Linked DNA regions of Homo sapiens: region 1 is linked to region 2. Evidence: fine-mapped expression QTL. Tissue or cell type: whole blood. Region 2 holds a variant in brackets; the other region holds the start of a gene. All regions are shown on one strand. Distances are between the middles of the regions. Region 1 holds the start of ZNF266 (zinc finger protein 266). Region 2 overlaps ZNF266 (zinc finger protein 266).

Region 1 (10,679 bases), 19 kb before region 2:
TCCTAGGTAATGATATTTTAAAGAAAACTCATCTGTATGCAAATCTTCTAAATAAAATTTCTAGCAAAACTAATCCAGTTATGAGAAAAAATAGTGCCCTATGAACAGTTTTACTTTAGGATTGCAAGAATGGCTTATTATCAGGAATGTTTTCAACACAACTAATTACTATACTACATTTGAGAGAGAGGAAAGTATTGTGAGGGAAGATGAAAAATTCCATATCCATTTGGAATTTAAAAAGTAAGTGAGCAAGGAAAGGAAAATGAATCCAGAATGGAATGGAGAAGTTTATCTACTGATGTGATTTTTTATGTAGGAAATCCTAAGGAATCCACTAAACTATTAAAACTGATAAACAAGTTCAACAAGGTTACAGGTAACAAGATCAACATAGAAAACTCAGTTGTATTTATGTATACTATCACGGCACAAGCCAAAAATGAAATTAAGAAAACAATTCTGGCTGGGCGTGGTGGCTCATGCCTGTAATCCCAGCACTTTGGGAGGCCTGAGGTCAGGAGCTCGAGACCAGCCTGGCCAACATGGTGAAACCCCGTCTCTACTAAAAATACAAAAAAAAAAATTAGCTGGGTGTGGTGGCGCGTGCCGGTAGTCCCAGCTACTCAGGAGGCTGAGGCAGAAGAATCGCTTGAACCCAGGAGGTGGAGGTTGCAGTGAGCTGAGATGGCACCACTGCACTCCAGCCTGGGCAATAAGAGCGAAACTTCATCTCCAAAAAAAAAAAAAAAAAAGAAAAGAAAAGAAAAGAAAAGAAAACAATTCCATTTATTATAGTATTAAAATAATAAACTACTTGGGAATAAATCTGATAAAAGATGTGCGAGACTTCCATACTGAATACCACAAAATGTTGATAAAGATGAAAAGTAATGGAAAGTCACCCCATGTTGATGGATTAGAATACTTATTATTTTTGAGAGGGAGTCTTACTCTGTTGCCCAAGCTGGAATGCACTGGTGCAATCTCGGCTTACTGTAACCTCTGCCTCTGGGTTCAAGCAGTTCTCCTGCCTCAGTCTCCCGAGTAGCTGGGATTACAGGCATGTGCCACCATGCCCAACTAATTTTTGTATTTTTAGTAGATATGGGGTTTCACCATGTTGGCTAGGCTGGTCTCGAACTCCTGACCTCAAGTGATCTGCCCATCTCGGCTTCTCAAAGTGCTGGGATTGTAGTCATGAACCACCACACCTGACCAAGAATACTGAACATTATTTTTAAGATGGCAGTACTCTCCAAGTTGGTCTATAGATTAAACATAATCCCTATCAAAATTCCAGATGGTGACAGAGTCTTTGCTTTACTCAACTATAGTCAAGCTCCTTAAACTTTTCTTAGGCCCATGTGTACACTTTTGTATATTGAGTTTTAGCAAGAACCCTGCTAAGTCAGTACAATAAGAACCTACCACCCTCAGTATCAGATCACCCTTATAGCTGATCAGGTTCCCGATTCTCTACTATCTACCAATTACAGGCCAAAGTGATCAGACATCATGTTAGGTCAGTTTATCCACCATCCTCCATACCCCTGATATTCCTCTTGGCAATTTTCCACTCACTGACCTTTACTCTTTAACTTGACTATAAATTCCCATTTGCTCATGCTATAATTATTCAGAGTTAGCCTACTCTGTCACCTCCACTGCAAAATCCTACTGCAGTGGTCCCTATACCTAACGTGATGGTACTGAATAAAGTCTGCCTTACTATGCTTTAACAAGTTCCACTGATGTTATTTTTTTTTTTAATTTAGCACTGGCTTCATAGCAGAAATTGACAGGCTCATCATAAACTTTATATAGAAATGGAAAGAACACCAAATAGCCAAACAGTCTTGAAAAAGAGGAACACAGTTGAAGGAGTCACACTTTTGGATTTCATAAAGTGCTACAAAATTGTAGTAATCAAAACAATGTGGCACTGGCTTAAGGATAAACATACAAATTAATGGAATAGAATTGAGAGTCCAGAAGTAAGCCCTCACATATATGGTCAACAGATCTACAAGGCTGCCAGGGTAATTCAATGAAGAATGAAAAGAATGTTTTCAACAAATGGTTCTGGGAGAAATTGATACCATACTGCAAAAGAATGCATTTGGGCTTTTACTTTATACCACATACAAAAGTTAACAGATACCACATTGGGGATTAAGCTAAAAAAATTAAAATATTTAAAAACCCCACAAAAGTTAGCTGACAATGGATCAAAGACCTAAACATACATGTAAGACCTACAATAATTCCCAGAAGTATAGGCAGAAAAGTTTCATGATACTGGATTTAGTACTGTTTTCTTAGGTGCAGTATCAAAAACATTGCAAACAAAAAATTATCAACATTAAACTTGTACTTCAGAGGACACTCATCAATATTATATAGTTTAGTATTCTAAAATATTCCATCAAGAAAGAGAAGGAAAACCTATTGAGAGAAAATATTTGTAAATCATATATATGATAAGGACCTCTCTTCAGAATATATAAAGAACTCTTGCAACTCAATGGAATTTTTTTTTTTAAGATAGAGAGTTTCGCTCTTGTTGCCCAGGCTGGATTGCAATGGCACCATCTCAGCTCACCGCAAGCTCCGCCTCCTGGGTTCAAGCGATTCTCCTGCCTTGGCCTCCTGAATAGTTGAAATTACAGGCATGTGCCACCATGCCTGGCTACTTTTTTGTATTTTTAGTAGAGACAGGGTTTCTCCATGTTGGTCAGGGTGGTCTTGAACTCCCAACCTGAGGTGATCTGCCTGCCTTGGCCTCCCAAAGTGCTGGGATTACAGGCGTGAGCCACTGCACCCGGACCTTTTTTTTTTTTTTTTTCGAAACAGAGTCTCACTTTATCACCCAGGCTGGAGTGCGGTGGCATAATCTTGGCTGACTGCAACCTCTTCCTCCCGGGTTCAAGCGATTCTCCTGCCTCAGCCTCCCGAGTAGCTGGGATTACAGGTGTGTGCTATCACGCCTGGCTGATTTTTTATCTTTTACGATGTTGGCCAGGCTGGTCTTGAACTCCTGGCCTCAAGTGATCTGTCTGTCTCAGCCTCCCAAATTGCTGGGATTACAAGCCACCGTGCCCAGCCAGAAAACAAATTTTAAAAGGGGCAAAGGAATTGAACAGAAATTTCTCCAAAGAAGCATACAAATGGCTAACAAAGCACATTAAATGATGCTGAACATCACTAGTGTTAGGGAAATACAAGTCAAAATCATGAGGTATCACCTCACACCACTAACACAGTTAACATGAAAAACACTAAAGTGTTAGCAGGGACGTAGAGAAGTTGGAGCCCTCATACATTTCTGGTGGGAATGTAAAACAGTACAGCCCCTTTCAAAAACAGTGTGGCAGTTCTTCAAATTCTTAGATAGTTACTGTATGGCTCAGCAATTCCATTCCCAGATATATACTCTAGAGAAATAAAAACCAGCTGAGCGTGGTGGCTTATGCCTTTGTGGAGGCCGAGGCGGGCAGGTTGCTTGAGCTTAGGAGTTTGAGACCAGCCTGGGCAAAACCCTGTCTCTACAAAAAAATACAAAAATTAGCTGGGTGTGGTGGCTTATGCCTGTGGTCCTAGTTGCTCAGGAGGCTGAGGTGGGAGGATCGCTTGAGCCTAGGAGGTAGAGGCTGCAGTGAGCTGTGATTTCTCAAAAAATAAAAGCCAGTATGCACAAAAAGATATATGTGAATTTTCATAGCAGCATTAATCACAACACCCCCAAAGTGGAAACAAACCATATGTCCATCAACTGAAGACAAATCATATATGGTATATACATAGAATGGAATATCATTCAGCAATAAAATAGAATGATCTAGGCTATAATACAGATGAACCTTGAAAAACGGGCTAAGTGAAAAAAGTTATTCACAAAAGATTGTATGATTTTTAGGCCGGGCATGGTGGCTCACGCCTATAATCCCAGCACTTTTGGAGGCCGAGGCAGGACTACTTAAGCCCAGGAGTTCGAGATCAGCCTTGCAACATAGTGAGACCCTGTCTATACAAAAATAAAAATAAATTGTATGAGTATATCCATATGAAATGTCTACAAAAGAAAAATCTGTAGTGATAAAGTAGGTTTGTGGTTCCCTGGAGCTTAAAGAGGAGGTAAATGGGTTTTCCCATTCAAAGATTTCTTTTAGTGTGATTAAAATGTTCCAAAATTATGTTTGAACAACACTGCGAATGTACTAAAAAATATTGAATTATATAGCTTTAAGTGGGTGAACTGTGTTGGTTATATGTGAATTGTATCTCAATACAGCTGGTCTAAAAACCAAAAGGGAAAAATCACAATAATAGCCACATCATTGGGAGCGTAAAAATTTAATGTCTATTAAGCATTTAGGGTAGTAAGATTTAAAAAACAGCTACCGCCAGGTGCGGTGGCTCACACCAGCACTTTCAGAGGCTGAGGTGGGCAGATCACCTGAGGTTAGGAGTTTGAGACCACCCTGGCCAACATGGCGAAACCCCATCTCTACTAAAAAAAAAAAAAAAAAAAAATACAAAAATTAGCTGAGCGTGGTGGCGCGTGCCTATAATCCCAGCTACTCAGGAGACTGAGAAAGGAGAATCCCTAGAACTCAGGAGGTGGAGGTTGCAGTGAGCCGAGATCGTACCACTGTATTCCAGCCTGGGTGACAGAGCAAGACTGTCTCAAAAACAAACAAACAAAAAAGCTACCATTATTATTATTATTACCACGGAATATTATTAGTTGATACAAAACCACTGGAATGAAAAGATTATGATCTTGATATTGGCATAAGTAAATGTATTACTGGCATAGAGTCTAGAATCAGATACAGGTATACATAGGAATTTATAGTTTAATAAACATGGAATTTGAAATCAGTAAATCAAGGACAGTTTATCAATATGTGGTACTACAATAATTGGCCGTGTTTCTGGAGGAAAGAGATATTGTATCCACTATCCCACACCACATACTGAAACACATTCCATGAGTATGAAAGATTTCAATGTTTTTAAAGTAATATGCTGCAGAAGAAAATTAGGAAATCTATATGTAATCTAGAGTTTATGAAGACTTCTTAATGCAAGAGAGGAAACTTAAAAAAGAAAATCTTTTTGAGTTGAAAAATTAACTGCAAAATAGTTACCAGTTCAGTAGATTCACAAAATATTTGATAATGTACATGAACAGTTCTTCATGTTAGTAAAACAGTGTTCAAAATAACTTTATTAACTCCATAAAGGCCACCCACTACAAAGCACAGCAAAAACGATTTCTGGAGAAACTAGAATCACTCCTGCAGAAGTGAATGCCTGATATCAGTGCTATTTTACAACGCGGTATTTTACAACGAGGCCCTGGAACTCACTGTAAGATCTCAGAAAACAATATATTAGTCAAAGAAAAAAAAATCAACATTTACAAAAAGTATCAGCATATTGAATACACAAAGGAATCAACTATTAGAATTTAGCATGGCGTCCAGATAAATGAAATAAGGGGAAATATTGGCCTCAAGTTGAATTGGGCCCGGCGCCGTGGTGCACGCCTGTAATCCCAGCCTTTTGGGAGGCTGAGGCGGGATGATTGTTGGAGCCCAGGAGTTTGAGATCAGCCTGGGTAACATACCTCAACTCTGGGGGAAAAAAAATTAGCCGGGCATGGTGGCCTGCGCCTGTAGACCCAGCTACTCGGGAGGCTGAGGCGGGATGATGGCGTGAGCCCATGAGTTTCGCCCCACAGCACGCCAGCCTGGACTACACAGTGAGACCCTGTCTCAAACAAAAACAAAATAAAAAACTAAAACTAGATTGAATGAATGGAGGAGATAGGCCATATCATGGACTGGCAGGATTATCAAAGGAAGCATCATTTTGAGGGTGCTAGGAACGTGGGAGGAGGTGAGAATAAAAGCTTTTTGTGAGCATTGTGCACATCCTGTGGGGGAGCCCCCACCTCTAACTTTGCCAACACCACCGACCCCACCCTAGGTTAGCCCCGTCCGCAGGGCTGGTTCTAACCTCAGCCTTGTGCTCTGGGCCCCTTTTGGCCTCCATCCCTCAAGGTGAGCAGACTCCAAGGCCTCCAAGGCGTCTCCGTAGCCACTGGGGAGTAAACCAGAATCTCTCTGCCTGAGGTTGTTCAGCTCGGCTGAGGTTGCAGTTCCCGAGCGCTCCTCCAGGTTTGAGGCTGGAGGCGGAAGTGACGTCACGGAGCGCTGCTGTGTTTTCCGGCGCTTTCTCCGCGCCGCCAAACCCGTTTTCTTCCTGGTGGCGTTTGGGCTTAATACAGCTTTGGCGAGGTCGGATGACGGGTGGGAGCCAGCGGTGGAAGGGGTGGCGAAAGTACCGGTTTGCCCCAGGCCGCCGAGGGGCCTCCTTAGAGAGACCTTGCCTGCTCCGCTCGCGTCCGCCGGGGCCGCGCGGGTCCTCCTGGCGCCGCCAGGTTCAAAAAGCCACTCGAGTTGTCACTGCGACGGCCCTGGGCCAGGAGCCGTTTCGGGATCTGTCGTAAGGGCGCTTCCTCACGATTTTTGCAAACACGGTGATTGCCGCTTCAAACTCTTCCAAAGCAATTCTTTGTGACTTTTTTTTTTCCAGAAACAACGAGTTTTCGTCGTTCGAATCAGGTTGACTGGTCCTTCATCCCCCCAATCTCCCGTACCTGGCGAGTCCAGCTCGTCGCGGTGAGTACTGGGGTGAAAGTTGGTTTCGGGGGCTTCTTCCTCCTGTTTTATCTGAGAATTTGTTTTTCTCTTTGCGCATCCTGTATTTACTTTTGACACTCTACATTCAGGTAGAAACATAAAGCTATTTTTTAGGTATCTGGGGTGTGGTTATTTCTCTATGTGAATATAAACGTTTGTAGACCAGAAGTCTTTCTACTGAAGAAAAGCAAGAATACTCAGCTATTCTTTTTATCTGAACTTCCTAGGCCTGTACCTCCCCACAGAGCTTCAAAACGGGCTTTTAGGAAGAAGGAATGGAGGCTTTGAAGTAAGTTGAACATTGCAGGCGTGACACTTAAGGTTTAAATGCTTGGTAATACGTGTCCTGTGGATAAAGACATGTCCTTTTAAAACCATAATACTATTACCCCAGAAAATTTAAAATGTTGTTAATATGTACCCTGTGTAAAAAGGTACAGTTCTCCACTTTGTTCCAATATATGGTTTTGATTGTTTTGGGATCTATTACGTATCCAAGTTTCATGTCTTTTAGTCTCTTTAAAACTAGCAGACACTGTTTATCCGTTATATTGTCTTTTTGCGCAGTCACTCGTTCTTTCAGAAAGTTATACATTTTGGTAGTTCTGATTGTATTCTGTGCCGTGTTTAAATGTATCCTTCATTTATTGGTGTATCCTGTAAATGGATGAGTGTCTGAATGGTTAATTAAGGCATAGTAAAAAAATTCAGCCTAGGGCTGTTCTTAGGGAGGTTGTAAACTAGTGGAGGAGGCTGTCATGTAACCAAGCAAATAAGTGTATTACAAATTGATGAAGGTCTGTAAGTAAAGTAGAGGACAGAATTATTTTCTCTATTTTTCTTTGGAATAGGCAATGCTAAGAAAAGAGTGATATGCAAGCTGAGACCAAAAATATGGTATGATTTAGCCATACTGAAGGGGAAGGAAATAAGAGCTGGGCAAAGCATTCTGTGAATTGGCTGACTCCACTTCTATGGTGAGAGAGAGGAGTGCATCAAAGATTACTCCCAGGTTTGACAGAGTCAGTATTCTTTCTTTGGTTGGGGAAACAATGTGGTGGGATAATTTAATCTTAAATGTATGACAGGAAATAGTAAGTGATATCTTTTGGGAGACAGAGTTTCGCTGTTGCCAGGCTCCAGTGCAGTGGCAGGATCTCGGCTCACTGAAACACTGTAACCTCCACCTCTTGGGTTTTCAAGCCATCCTCCTGCCTCAGCCACCCTAGTAGCTGGGATTACAAGTGTGCGCCACCATGCCTGGCTAATTTTTGTATTTTTGTATTTTTTTTTTTTTTAGTAGAGATGGTTTCAGCATGTTGGCCAGTCTGGTCTCAGACTCCTGACCTCAAGTGATCCACCCACCTCGGCCTCCCAAAATGCTGGGATTACAGGTATAAGCCACTGTGCCTGGCCAAAGTAAGTGATATCTGACAAATGATGTAAATCAAGGGAAAATAGGAGAAGCATGAATGTGTTTTAATTACATGAATAAGAAATTAATTCAAGGGATTAATGAGAATCAGTGCTTGATCACTGAAAAATAAGCTCTCCATGAAAATTCACTGATGTTAATTATTAGTCTTAGGAAATATGTATATTCATAAACAGACAAAACTTCTCTCGTTGTTTTTTTCAATTCACTTTTGGGTTCCTTCTCCTACCTAAATTAGTCCTTCGTTTCCCTGAAGGAATGTCCAGAGTAAGCACTCTGCGTGACTCCTTATAGACACTCATACACCTAGGGGGTTGGCTTGATACAATCCATGTAAGTAAATGACCAGAAAACTCACCTGCCAATGTGGGCTGCCAAAAAGCTGTGAAGGGGCCACATGGCCTGGAAATACAACAGATCTTAGAATAATGTCTGTTAATTATAACATCGATGACGGAAAAAAAATCAAATTCCAGTAGGGCCACTCTGTAGATTCTGCACGTTCTTCCCATGTCTGCATGGGTTTTCTCTGGGTACTCTGGTTTCTTCCCACATGCCAAAGATGCACATGTTAGCTTAATTGGTGTGTCTAAATTGTCCCACTATGTGTGTGTGTGCCCTGAGCTGTTAGGATGGGCTCTGGCCATTTTCATTCTGGAACTGGAATAGGTGGATTGGAGAATGAATGAATGAATACAAACTATTGTAAAATAAAAATTCCTAAAACATTTGATAATGATACAACTGTACAACAGTAAATGGTACCACTTAGCAAGCTGGCCCCATTTGTTATTGTTTTTGAGCTTCTTGGTGGTAGGAGGTGGTCCTTAGAGTTTTTGCTTTGGAAGCATTTATTTGTTTTAACCCACCACTGTTAACTGCCATCACATACCAATTCATCAAAAATTGGATAAATAGCCTATTTTTATTAGTCTTTCTTAAATGTATATATATTTCACATTTATTTCAATATTTAATATTAGAAGTGTTTGGGGTCTTTATTTAGAAGTTTAGTGATGTTTTTGTGACCAGAAATATGCTGTAGGAGCTTAACTCGCTTATATTAATTAGCATGTGAAAAAATTCGCTTTGTTGTATGTCATTTCGCTTAAAGTCTCAGTTTCCAAGAACCTGCTGATGACTTTAAGTGAAGACTTAAATTCTATACATTTTCTCTGTTTGGCACTTAGGGGTTCCAGTGAACTAGCCGCATGTAGTGAAATCATTGATGGGGATTCTGATATAAAGTTGCTGAGGATGTGCATATACTGCTTTTTGGAGAGTGTATTGGCAAACCAATTTCAAAAACTGTTGGCAGTACATACTAGGTTTATACACATACATGCCCTACAGCAACAGTAATGTATACACTATGTGTATCAAGATAAAAGTAAGCCAGGTGCAGTGGCTCACGCCTGTAATCCCAACACTTTGGGAGGCCAAGGTGGGTGGATCACTTCAGGTCAGGAGTTGAAGGCCAGCCTGGCCAACATGGTGAAACCCTGACTCTATTAAAAAAAATACAAAAATTAGCCGGGCATGGTGGTGGGTGCCTGTAATCCCAGCCACTTGAGAGACTGAGGCAGGAGAATCACTTGAACCAGGGAGGTGAAGGCTGCAGTGAGCTGAGATTGCGCTACTGCACTCCATCCTGGGCAACCAGAGTGAGACCCTGTCTAAAAACAAAACAAAACAAAACCCAACTGACTTGAGACCTCAATTACATCTGCATTCTCTTCATTTTTGCTTATTCTTCTGTTAGAAACTGGTCAAAGGTCGTGCGTGCGCTCAACAGGAGGGTGTTATCCAGGGGTATGAATGCCAGCAGGTGGGGATCTCTGGGGTCATATTACAGTATTTGGCCACAGTGTGGCTGTAGCCCACTGGATGGTGAAGTTTGCTGGGTTACTCAGGCGGGAGTTAGTCATAGTCCTTAGGGAAGATTGAAGCAGTGTTTCAAGGCAAAGGCCAGCTGCAATGGGTGGATCAGCCTGTAGGGGGAGTCAGGACACCACTGTAGCTATGAGGCTTGGACTGGTTCGTGTCTGCCCTGGAAGTGCTGTGACAAACACACCTCTGGGGCACACTCACACTGATGGTGATGGGCAGCTATGCACAGGAAATTTGGATGCCACTTTGTTTGCAAGGCCTGGGACTTCAGTGTTCACGTTCGGAGGCCTTTGGGAACAAACCTTTGGGGTACAGGTCATGCAGCAGCATGCATCCTGGCATGCGCATTGTCTGTGTCATGAGGGACACAAGCCATCAAGCCAGTCGGCACATGTGCAGAGGGTGCCTCTGCTAGTGGGAGTCCTTTGAGCATGTGGCGTCCATATTAGGAGGGCCACAGGGTGGTGGTGACTGGGCCAGGGTTTTGTGGTATCCTAAGGACTGTGTTATGGGCATATGGCGTGGACAGAGCACCCTCCAATGCCCTCACACCCACACTGCTGACCACCGTGTCGCAATTGTATCCAGCAGGCAACGCTCCCTTTTGCAGTGTCCATCCCATGTCCCCTTTTAGTATG
Region 2 (10,517 bases):
AACCAGTCTTTGGTATGCAGACAGGCCATGGGTGGTGGCTAAGTGCATAGAAAGAGACAGTATTCCTGTCACCCTTGCATTCTTTGAGTAGTTCAATGCATTTCCTCAGAACTCAGATGCATATTGTGTTATGAATTGTGATGGGGCTGTAGTCTGGGTGTACTTTAACAGTGTTGAGAAGGATCTCAGTTGTCTGTCCAGCCATCACTGGGTGCCTTTAGGCTCCATGCCAGGTCAAGGGGAACATTGGCACCCAAAGATACCTAAGGCTGCCCATGAGATACAGAGACTCCACAAAGAAAAGCAAGTTGCAGTGTCACCCAGCATCATCCAAGAACATTCCTAGAGACTCGCAGAGTTCCTTATGATAAAAAAAAGGTTTTGTTGTGGCCAGGTGCAGTGGCTCACGCCTGTAATCCAGCACTTTGGGAGGCCGAGGCGGGCAGATCACAAAGTCAGGAGATCGAGACCATCCTGGCTGACAGGGTGAAACCCCGTGTCTACTAAAAATACAAAAAAATTAGCCGGGTGTGGTGGCGGGTGCCTATAGTCCCAGCTACTCGGGAGGCTGAGGCAGGAGAATGGCGTGAACCTGGAGGCGGAGCTTGCAGTGAGCCGAGATCGCGCCACTGCACTCCAGCCTGGGTGACAGAGCGAGCCTCCGTCTCAAAAGAAAAAAAAAAAGAAAGGTTTTGTTGCTCCAAAAATAGGAAAGTTCAATGTGTGTATCTATCTACCCAGTAATGTTGTTACAAGATGTATAAAGGAGTATACATTACAGATACACAAGAAGAAATAGACAAGTCCACAGTTGCAGTGGGAGATTTTAGAATTTTTATCTCATGTTATTTAAATAGTAGAGAAAAATGAAGATAGGATGTACATTTGCGAGAGATGAGCACACTGCCTAATTTACCTGTCCAGTGTTGTGTCTGCTAAATGAAGGAAATCACAGGGTGCTTATCTGGAGTTGAGAGTGAAAAGATAGACTGGAAGGGGCAAGAAGGTTTTCATGGGGAGACGAACATGTTTTATATCTTGTTTAGGCTTTTGATTATGCAAGTGTATGCGATTGTCAAAATTCATCCACTGAATACCTAAGATCTGTACTTTTAATTGTACATTAATTACATTTCAAGTTTAAAATAACATAATTGGTTTAGATTTCACCAAATTAAACACATTTGTGGCCCTCTTCAGCCTAAGGATCCCCAGTTTGAAACCCATGGTAGTGGGTACAATCTACACCAGGAGTCTAGACATGGGGTTTCTGTAACCCAGTGTGACCTCAGAGTTTCAGCCTTCTCATTCATAGAATAAAGGCTGTAGCGTCCTTGTGGGGGTGTATCTGGTTCATGGATAATGAACTGTTCAGTTTTCAGTGATTTTCATCGTTCAGATTCCATTCTGTCAATCAGCATTTGCACTGTTGTTCTGTGTTTGATTTATTAAAGATTGTGATTAATTTTTATTAAATTTTATTTTAATTGTATAAATTTTATTAAATTAAAATACATTCTGTTGTTGGGTCATACTCGGTTTATATGGAGTGGGTGTTCAATAACACATGTGGGTAGTGACCATGGTGTTGTACTGTGCAGGTTTAGACTAACGCTGGTCATGTGGGAAAGTAAGAGCAGCCACAGATTGGGTGTCAGGGACAAAATTGCCTGTGTTCAAGTCCTGGTTCACAACTTCCAAACTGGATGATTCTGGACCAAATCCAAGTGTTGTCTGATTGTAGGTTTTCTTTTTTTTCTTTTTCTTTTTTTTTTTTTCCTTTTGAGAGAGAGTTTCACTCTGTTGCCAGGCTGGAGTGCCGTGGTGTGATCTCGGCTCACTGCAACCTCTGTCTCTCAGGTTCAAGCGATTCTCCTGCCTCAGCCTCCTCAGTAGCTGGGATTTATAGGCATGCACTACCATGCCCAGCTAATTTTTGTGTTTTCAGTAGAGATGGGGTTTCACCACATTGCCCAGGCTGGTCTTGAACTCCTGACCTCAACTGACACACCTGCCTTGGTTTCCCAAAGTGCTGGGATTACAGGCGTGAGCCACCGCCCCCGGCCTGATTTTTTCTTTATCAAATAGGGGTCATTGGTATCTACTGTAAAGGGTGGTTATGATAATTAAGCGAGTATATAAAGCTGCTAGTGTGACTTCTGACACACACTGTTCCTCAGTAGTGGAAGTTGGTCTTCCTACTATTTGTAGTGTACACCGTTTTCAGTGTCTTTTCCTCTATATGCTCTGCAGAGAGAGTGCTAATGATGTCTGATGACTGATAAGTAATGCTTGTTGATTAATGATTTATACAAACAGGATACCGTTAACCCTGGATAAAGAGAATGGAGGTTACCTCTGTCCGTGTAGATTCCTAAGCTGTCCTGGAGTGATCCTTGGAGTAAAGGAAAGGTGCTTTGAAGCACATTCAGCCATCAGCCCTGTGGGATGGCAGCCACTGATTTGTCCTATGGTAAGTCCTGTTTCTGTTCATTTTCAGATACCCTGCTTTAGGTGTCCCCCCCCACACAGTATGGAGTCCAGTGGCCTGTGCCTGATCATTCACGCTGCAGCTTCATTTCTGAGGTGCTGATGTGGGCTAGGGAATGCTTTGTTCCTTTTTTTTTTTTTTTTTTTGAGACAGAGTCTTGCTCTGTTGCTCAGGCTGGAGTGCAGTGGCATGATCTCAGCTCATTGCCACCTCTGCCCCCCAGGTTCAAGCGATTTTCCTGCCTCAGCCTCCCGAGTAGCTGGGATTACAGGCGTGTGCCACCACACCTGGCTAATTTTTTGTAATTTTAGTAGAGATGGAGTTTCACCATGTTGGCCAGGATGGTCTCGAACTCCTAACCTCAAGTGATCTGCCTGCCTCGACCTCCCAAAGTGCTAGGATTACAGGTGTGAGCCATCACGCCCAGCCAGAATACTTCATCAGCCCCCTGCTGTGTGTGCTTTGGGAAGAGGTGCTGTGTCTTTCCAGGGAAGAGAAGTTTTCCTTATCTGTAAAATAAGACTGTTACCCTTTTCCCAGTGGGCAGCATGGCTGACTATCCTTTTTTTTGCCTTTACGTGAGGCAGTAGTGCCCTGGAATTGATAGCGGTGGTGTGTATGTGTGTGTTTTCTTGAGTGTGCGGGAGTATATAGGAATCTCACAGTAGGATGGAATGACTTTGGGGTACGTGAATGTGGGAATTATCGTCAGCCCTGGGTTCTCATGCCTTCTTTCTTTTCCATGAGGTCTTTACAGGGACCCAGTCTGCCTTCAAGAAAAGACAGAAGTAGAAAGGGTGGTGGCTGACTGTCTGACAAATTGTTATCAGGTATGCAGGAAGTATATCCTTCTCCAAAATATCATACTTGCATCACCAGGTAGACACATTTCCTTCTACACAGAATTATCTTCAGAGCTTCTTAAAGCAAATAAAGCCTCCTTCAAGGACTGAGTCCCTAGTCGAATTCCCGGAAGGAGTGGAGCCTGTCATATTGGTGAGGGTTTGCCTTGAATGTCATCCCAGTATTTCAATATTGATTAATTAGTCTTCCCTCATGGTCCCAACTGCATAGTTTTTATTTTGTTGAGTGTTCTGACACATGGTAAGGGACATGAAAGTATCCTTTGAGATAATCTTTCCATTCATCAGTGTTTATCTAGCATCTGCTCAAGAGTGTGCTGCAGTGGAGGGAAATCAGATGACCTCCCAGTCTGGTTGTGTTACATACAATCATGTGTAAGAAGTGCCATTCAAGCCGTGTCACTGGAGGGGACTGACAGTGAGTGAGTGTGGATAGAGAGGACCTCCTGGGGTGGGCAATGTGAGCCCTCAGACTCTGTAGGTATTGCATTTTGCAGTGAACACTGGTAGACATGTTTTGTGGCTCAAGCCAGCATGTGTGTGATGGTTTAGGATTCAGTGACTTTTGATGATCTGGCTGTGGACTTCACCCCAGAAGAATGGACTTTACTGGACCCAACTCAGAGAAACCTCTACAGAGATGTGATGCTGGAGAACTACAAGAATTTGGCCACAGTAGGTAAGACTGGCCTCATCCCTTGTAGCCTACTATGGAACAGATTATGTTATGTACTTACTGTATTGCACATCAGAGATAGCAACTCTGAACACAATGGGAAATAACAGACATAGTCCCTGCCCTAATAGGGTTTCATCTACTTGGTGATTCTCAAAATGTGGTGTCAGATGAAGAGCATCACCAGCACTGTTGGAGATGTATGTTCTCAGTCTCCACCTTTGACATACTCAGTGAGAAACTGCAACAGGGCCCCTGTCATCTGTGTTTTAACAAGCTCTCATGAATCTGATGTGCTATAATGTTGAAGAATGAGATGTATAGTTGTTTCCCATGAGAATGAAGATCTCTTTGTTTCACTTAACTTCCTATTTGGATAAAAGTCTTAGTGCTTTGTAAGTGTGTACATCAGCCTGGATTTGGGCTTCAGGGATCAGAGATCACCAATCTTTTGGGGGCACAGACAGACGATATTTGCATTTTTAGCCCTTTTAAAATAATTTCACTGCTTCCATTGGAACTATATCTCCTGAGTTGTGGAAAGATTTATCATCTCTTGCATGAGCCTCTTCTGGTAATGTATCTTTCTTTGTGCACAGGATATCAGCTCTTCAAACCCAGTCTGATCTCTTGGCTGGAACAAGAAGAGTCTAGGACAGTGCAGAGAGGTGATTTCCAAGGTGAGTGTTCACAAAGGACCGCCCTGGTCAATAAGTTCAGTATGTTTATAAGTATAATGAGGAAACTTTTTTTTTTTTTTGAGATGGAGTCTCACTCTGTCACCCAGGCTGGAGTGCCGTGGCACAGTCTCAGCTCACTGCAACCTCCGCCTCGCAGGTGCAAGCGATTCTCCTGCCTCAGCCTTCTGATCTCCTGCCTCAGCCCCCTGAGTAGCTGGGATTACAGGCTCACGCCACCATGCCTGGCTAATTTTTGTATTTTTAGTAGAGGCGGGGTTTGACCGTGTTGGTCAGTGTGGTCTCAAACTCCTGATCTCATGATCTGCCCACCTCGGCCTCCCAAAGTGCTGGGATTACAGGCGTGAGCCACCACGCTTAGCCATAATGAGGAAACTTTTTAAGATGTGCTTCATCTCACAGTGTTGAGGCCATTATTTTTTTTATTTTTATTTTTTTCTGAGACACAGTTTCACTGTCACCCAGGCTGTAGTGCAGTGGTGCGATCTCGGCTTACTGCAACTTCAGCCTCCCGGGTTCAGGTAATTCTCCTGAGTACTCGTCCTCCCGAGTAGCCGGGACTACAGGTGTGTGCCACGCCTGGTTAATTTTTTGTATTATTAGTGGAGAGAGGGTTTCACCACATTGGCCACGCTGGTCCCAAACTCCTGACTTCAAGTGATCCACCTGCCTTGGCCTCCCAAAGTGCTGGGATTACAGGCATGAGCCACCATGCCCAGGTAGGCCATTTCTTTCTCAGAAGTTAAGAAATCTTCAACTTCTCATACTTTTACGCTTTGTCTACTCATTCTTTTCTGTGATAGGACCCGTTGGTTTCTTCTTTAAAAGTTCCTGTTTTGGGCCAGGTGTGGTGGCTCACGCCTATAATCTCAGCACTTTGGGAGGCTGAGGCGGGCAGATCACATGAGGTCATGAGTTTGAGACCAGCCTGGCCAACATGGTGAAACCCCATCGCTACAAAAATACAACTATTAGCTGGGCGTGGTGGCGCACTCCTGTAGTCCCAGCTACTAGGGAGGCTGAGGCAGGAGAATCGCTTGAACCCAGGGGCCGAAGGTTGCAATGAGCCAAGATCGTGCCGCTGAACTCCAGCTGGGGTGAGAGAGCAAGACTCTGTCTCAAAAAAAAAAAAAAAAAAAAAAAAAAGGCCTGGCACGGTGGCTCACGTCTGTAATCCCAGAACTTTGGGAGGCCGAGGTGGGAGGATCACCTGATGTCAGGAGTTCGAGACCAGCATGGCCAACATGCTGAAACCCTGTCTCTACTAAAAATGCAAAAATTAGCTGGGCTTGGTGGTAGGTGCCTGTAATCCCAGCTACTCGGGAGGCTGAGGCAGGAGAATCGCTTGAACTTGGGAGGCGGAAGTTGCAGTGAGCCGAGATTGTTCTATTGCACTCCAGCCTGAGTGACAAGAGTGAAAGTCTTTCTCAAAAAAAAAAAAAAACAAAAAACAAAAACAAGCTCCTTGTTTTGATGTGTGCTTTTTGTTCTATTCCTCAACTTTCCTTCCATGGTAATATTCTTTGTGTTCACCATCAGTTTATAATTTTCATAGAATCAGTTTGTAGTAAACTATGTAAAATTTTGACGCTATATCCTTATTATTGCCAAATTTTTGATATACAATCTTCAAATCTGTCTTTGTGTTTGTTTTTTGTTACCGTGTTTAATTTGAAAACAAATACAGGGGCCGGGTGTGGTGGCTAATGCCTGTAATCCCAGCACTTTGAGGGGCTGAGGCGTGTGGATCACGAGGTCAGGAGTTTGAGACTAGCTTGGCCAACATGGTGAAATCTCGTCTCTACTAAAAATACAAAAATTAGCTGGGCGTTGTGGCATGTGCCTGTAGTCCCAGCTACTCAGGAGGCTGAGGCAGGAGAATCACTTGAACCTGAGAGGCAGAGGTTGCAGTGAGCTGAGACCACGCCATTGCACTCCAGCCTGGGCAACAGAGTGAGACACCGTCTCAAGAAAAAAAGAAAACAAGTACAAATGATCCCTCTCATTTTCAGCTCCATCTGTCTACCCTGTATGTCTCCAAACCCTTACATTTCTTTTTCTCTTCAGCTTCAGAATGGAAAGTGCAACTTAAAACCAAAGAGTTAGCCCTTCAGCAGGATGTTTTGGGGGAGCCAACCTCCAGTGGGATTCAAATGGTAAGATTAACAAGGATACGTCTTAGTTTTCACATTTAGAGATGATTGGGGATTCCATTATAGAAAATCAGAATAAAGCTGGGAATGGTGGCTCACACCTGTAATCCCAGCACTTTGGGAGGCTGAAGTGGGAGGATCACTTGAGGCCAGGAGTTCTAGACCAGCCTGGTCAACGTAGCAAGATCTTGGCGCTAAAAACTAAATTTAATTACATTAAAAGAAAAAGAAAATTAGCAGAATGAGAGCTCTTTGAGATAAGTAGCATTCCCAAAAGGGATAATGACTCTGGAGAGAGACTCAGAATACGATGAC[C/T]TGGGGATGCTTGAAATCTAGCTTGACACTTATTGTTGTTTTTTTCTTAGACAGAGTCTTGGTCTGTCACCCAGGCTGGAATGCAGTGGCATGATCTTGGCTCACTGCAACCTCCACCTCCTGGGTTCAAGCGATTCTTGTGCCTCACCCTGCTGAGTAGCTGGGAGTACAGGCACGTGCCACCATGCCCGGCTAGTTTTTGTACTTTTAGTAGAGACAGGGTTTCACCATGTTGGCCAGACTGGTCTTGAACTCTTGACCTGAGGTGATCTGCCCACGTTGGCCTCCCAAAGCACTGGGATTACAGGCGTGAGCCACTGCGCCCAGCCAACACTTAGGTGTTTTAGAGTTCCCCTCAAGTACACATTTGTAACTAGATAGTGAGTTTTTAAGACAATTTCATAAAACTCTACAGACATTTGAGATTAGAGTAGATGGCACAGCCTGGCAGGAGTTTTTTGTCATTCCGCTGGAAAGAAATCAAAAGGGCATTACTTATATGTGTGTAATGAAAATGGTAAACATGATAATAATCATCACAGTGTTCCTCTCTTCAGATGAGTGGAATCTGTTAATCAATCTGAACCGTCCTTTAATCATCATTCATTCCTTTATCAACAGATAGGAAGCCACAACGGAGGGGAGGTCAGTGATGTTAAGCAATGTGGAGATGTCTCCAGTGAACACTCATGCCTTAAGACACATGTGAGAACTCAAAATAGTGAGAACACATTTGAGTGTTATCTGTATGGAGTAGACTTCCTTACTCTGCACAAGAAAACCTCTACTGGAGAGCAACGTTCTGTATTTAGTCAGTGTGGAAAAGCCTTCAGCCTGAACCCAGATGTTGTTTGCCAGAGAACGTGCACAGGAGAGAAAGCTTTTGATTGCAGTGACTCTGGGAAATCCTTCATTAATCATTCACACCTTCAGGGACATTTAAGAACTCACAATGGAGAAAGTCTCCATGAATGGAAGGAATGTGGGAGAGGCTTTATTCACTCCACAGACCTTGCTGTGCGTATACAAACTCACAGGTCAGAAAAACCCTACAAATGTAAGGAATGTGGAAAAGGATTTAGATATTCTGCATACCTTAATATTCACATGGGAACCCACACTGGAGACAATCCCTATGAGTGTAAGGAGTGTGGGAAAGCCTTCACCAGGTCTTGTCAACTTACTCAGCACAGAAAAACTCACACTGGAGAGAAACCTTATAAATGTAAGGATTGTGGGAGAGCCTTCACTGTTTCCTCTTGCTTAAGTCAACATATGAAAATCCATGTGGGTGAGAAGCCTTATGAATGCAAGGAATGTGGGATAGCCTTCACTAGATCTTCTCAACTTACTGAACATTTAAAAACTCACACTGCAAAGGATCCCTTTGAATGTAAGATATGTGGAAAATCCTTTAGAAATTCCTCATGCCTCAGTGATCACTTTCGAATTCACACTGGAATAAAACCCTATAAATGTAAGGATTGTGGGAAAGCCTTCACTCAGAACTCAGACCTTACTAAGCATGCACGAACTCACAGTGGAGAGAGGCCCTATGAATGTAAGGAATGTGGAAAGGCCTTTGCCAGATCCTCTCGCCTTAGTGAACATACAAGAACTCACACTGGAGAGAAGCCTTTTGAATGTGTCAAATGTGGGAAAGCCTTTGCTATTTCTTCAAATCTTAGTGGACATTTGAGAATTCACACTGGAGAGAAGCCCTTTGAGTGCCTGGAATGTGGTAAAGCATTTACGCATTCCTCCAGTCTTAATAATCACATGCGGACCCACAGCGCCAAAAAACCATTCACGTGTATGGAATGTGGCAAAGCTTTTAAGTTTCCCACGTGTGTTAACCTTCACATGCGGATCCACACTGGAGAAAAACCCTACAAATGTAAACAGTGTGGGAAATCCTTCAGTTACTCCAATTCGTTTCAGTTACATGAACGAACTCACACTGGAGAGAAACCCTATGAATGTAAGGAGTGCGGGAAAGCCTTCAGTTCTTCCAGTTCCTTTCGAAATCATGAAAGAAGGCATGCGGATGAGAGACTGTCAGCATAAGGAATGTGGGAAAACCTAAAGGTGTCCCTGTTCTCTCTGAAGACATGAAAACTCACTGGGGAGAAACCCTATGAATGTAAAAATGTGGAAGCAACTTTGTATCTCAGGTCTTAATGAACACATATGAATTCACAGTGGAGAAGACCCTGCATCAGGGAATGTGGAAATGACTTTGCTGAATTCTCAAGCCTTACCAAACACATCAGAAATCTCACTGGAGAGAAACTGTATGAATGTAGAGAATCTGGGAATACCTTTCTGAATCCCACAAACCTTAATGTGTGTATGTGAACTCACATTGGAGAGAAACCCTGCAATTTAAATGGTATGGTCTGGATGATGCCCCACTCCATATTTGTAAGCCCTAAGTCCTAGTTCCTTACACTATAACTGTATTTGGACATAGGGTTTTCAAACAGGTGAGTAACTTCAAATGAGGTTGTTGGGTTCGATCCCTAATCTGACATCACTGGTGTCCCTATAAGGGAAACTGAAGGAAGGATACACATGGAGAAGACTGTGTGGATCCACCAGAAGATGGCCATCTACAAGCCAAGGACAGAGACCTGGAACAGATGCTTTCATTATGGCCTCCAGAGGAAACCAACCCTGTCTCCACCTTGATATTGCACTTCCAGGCTCCAGAACTGTGAGGCAATAAATTTCTCTTGGTTAAATCATTCAGTCTGTTATTTTGTACAGCAACCCTAGGAAACTAATACTGTGAGGAACTTGGGAAAAGCTTTAGATCAAGCTTGTCCAACCCGCAGGCCAGGATGGCTTTGAATGCAGACCAACACAAATTTTTAAGCTTTCTTCAAACATAATAAAATTTTTTTGTGATTATTTTTTCCGTTCATTAGCTATCATTAGTGTTAGTGTAAACACAAAAGCAATCACAGGAGAGACGTTCTATGAATGTAGGACATGTGAAGAAGTCTGTAAGTGCTCATCAGATCTTAATACTCACTTCCAACTCTTGTGGTGATAGGCCCTGTGAAAATCAAAGACCATCAAGAAGAGAAAGTTTCTTTTACTATGAAAGTCATAAATGTGACTTCACCCAACATTTAGTGACTTAGAGTGGACTGAGGCTCCATTATTAGTAATGTGGAGAGATTTCATTAAATGTTTATACCTTACATGAGAAATAAAAATTCACAGTGTAGAGAACACTTCTGCTGTAAGGCACGTGGGAAAGCTTTTACTAATTCCACGAGGCTCATTTTACATATCTAAAATTAGACTGCAAGT

Evidence for each region. PIP is the estimated chance that this variant, and not a neighbour inherited with it, causes the effect.
Region 1: ZNF266 starts here. The variant in region 2 is fine-mapped to the expression of ZNF266 in whole blood (INTERVAL, PIP above 0.99).

The regions. Positions count from the first base shown.
Region 1 is chr19:9,431,124-9,441,802 of GRCh38, reverse strand. It overlaps ZNF266 (zinc finger protein 266), which reads left to right and starts at 6,230. Exons shown (of 11, transcript NM_001370374.1): 1 at 6,230-6,519; 2 at 6,610-6,695; 3 at 6,944-7,005; 4 at 7,568-7,728; 5 at 8,017-8,135. It overlaps LOC105372269 (a long non-coding RNA gene), which reads right to left and starts at 6,162. Exons shown (of 3, transcript XR_007067133.1): 1 at 6,031-6,162. RefSeq lists an enhancer at 6,310-6,439.
Region 2 is chr19:9,412,021-9,422,537 of GRCh38, reverse strand. ZNF266 (zinc finger protein 266) reads left to right here. Exons shown (of 11, transcript NM_001370374.1): 6 at 2,320-2,473; 7 at 3,239-3,321; 8 at 3,907-4,033; 9 at 4,630-4,710; 10 at 6,796-6,884; 11 at 7,818-10,109. The coding sequence starts at 2,449. The coding sequence ends at 9,263. Among named protein-coding and RNA genes, the nearest start is that of ZNF266, 18 kb to the left of the region's middle. The variant C/T (reference allele first, on the strand shown) is at 7,197.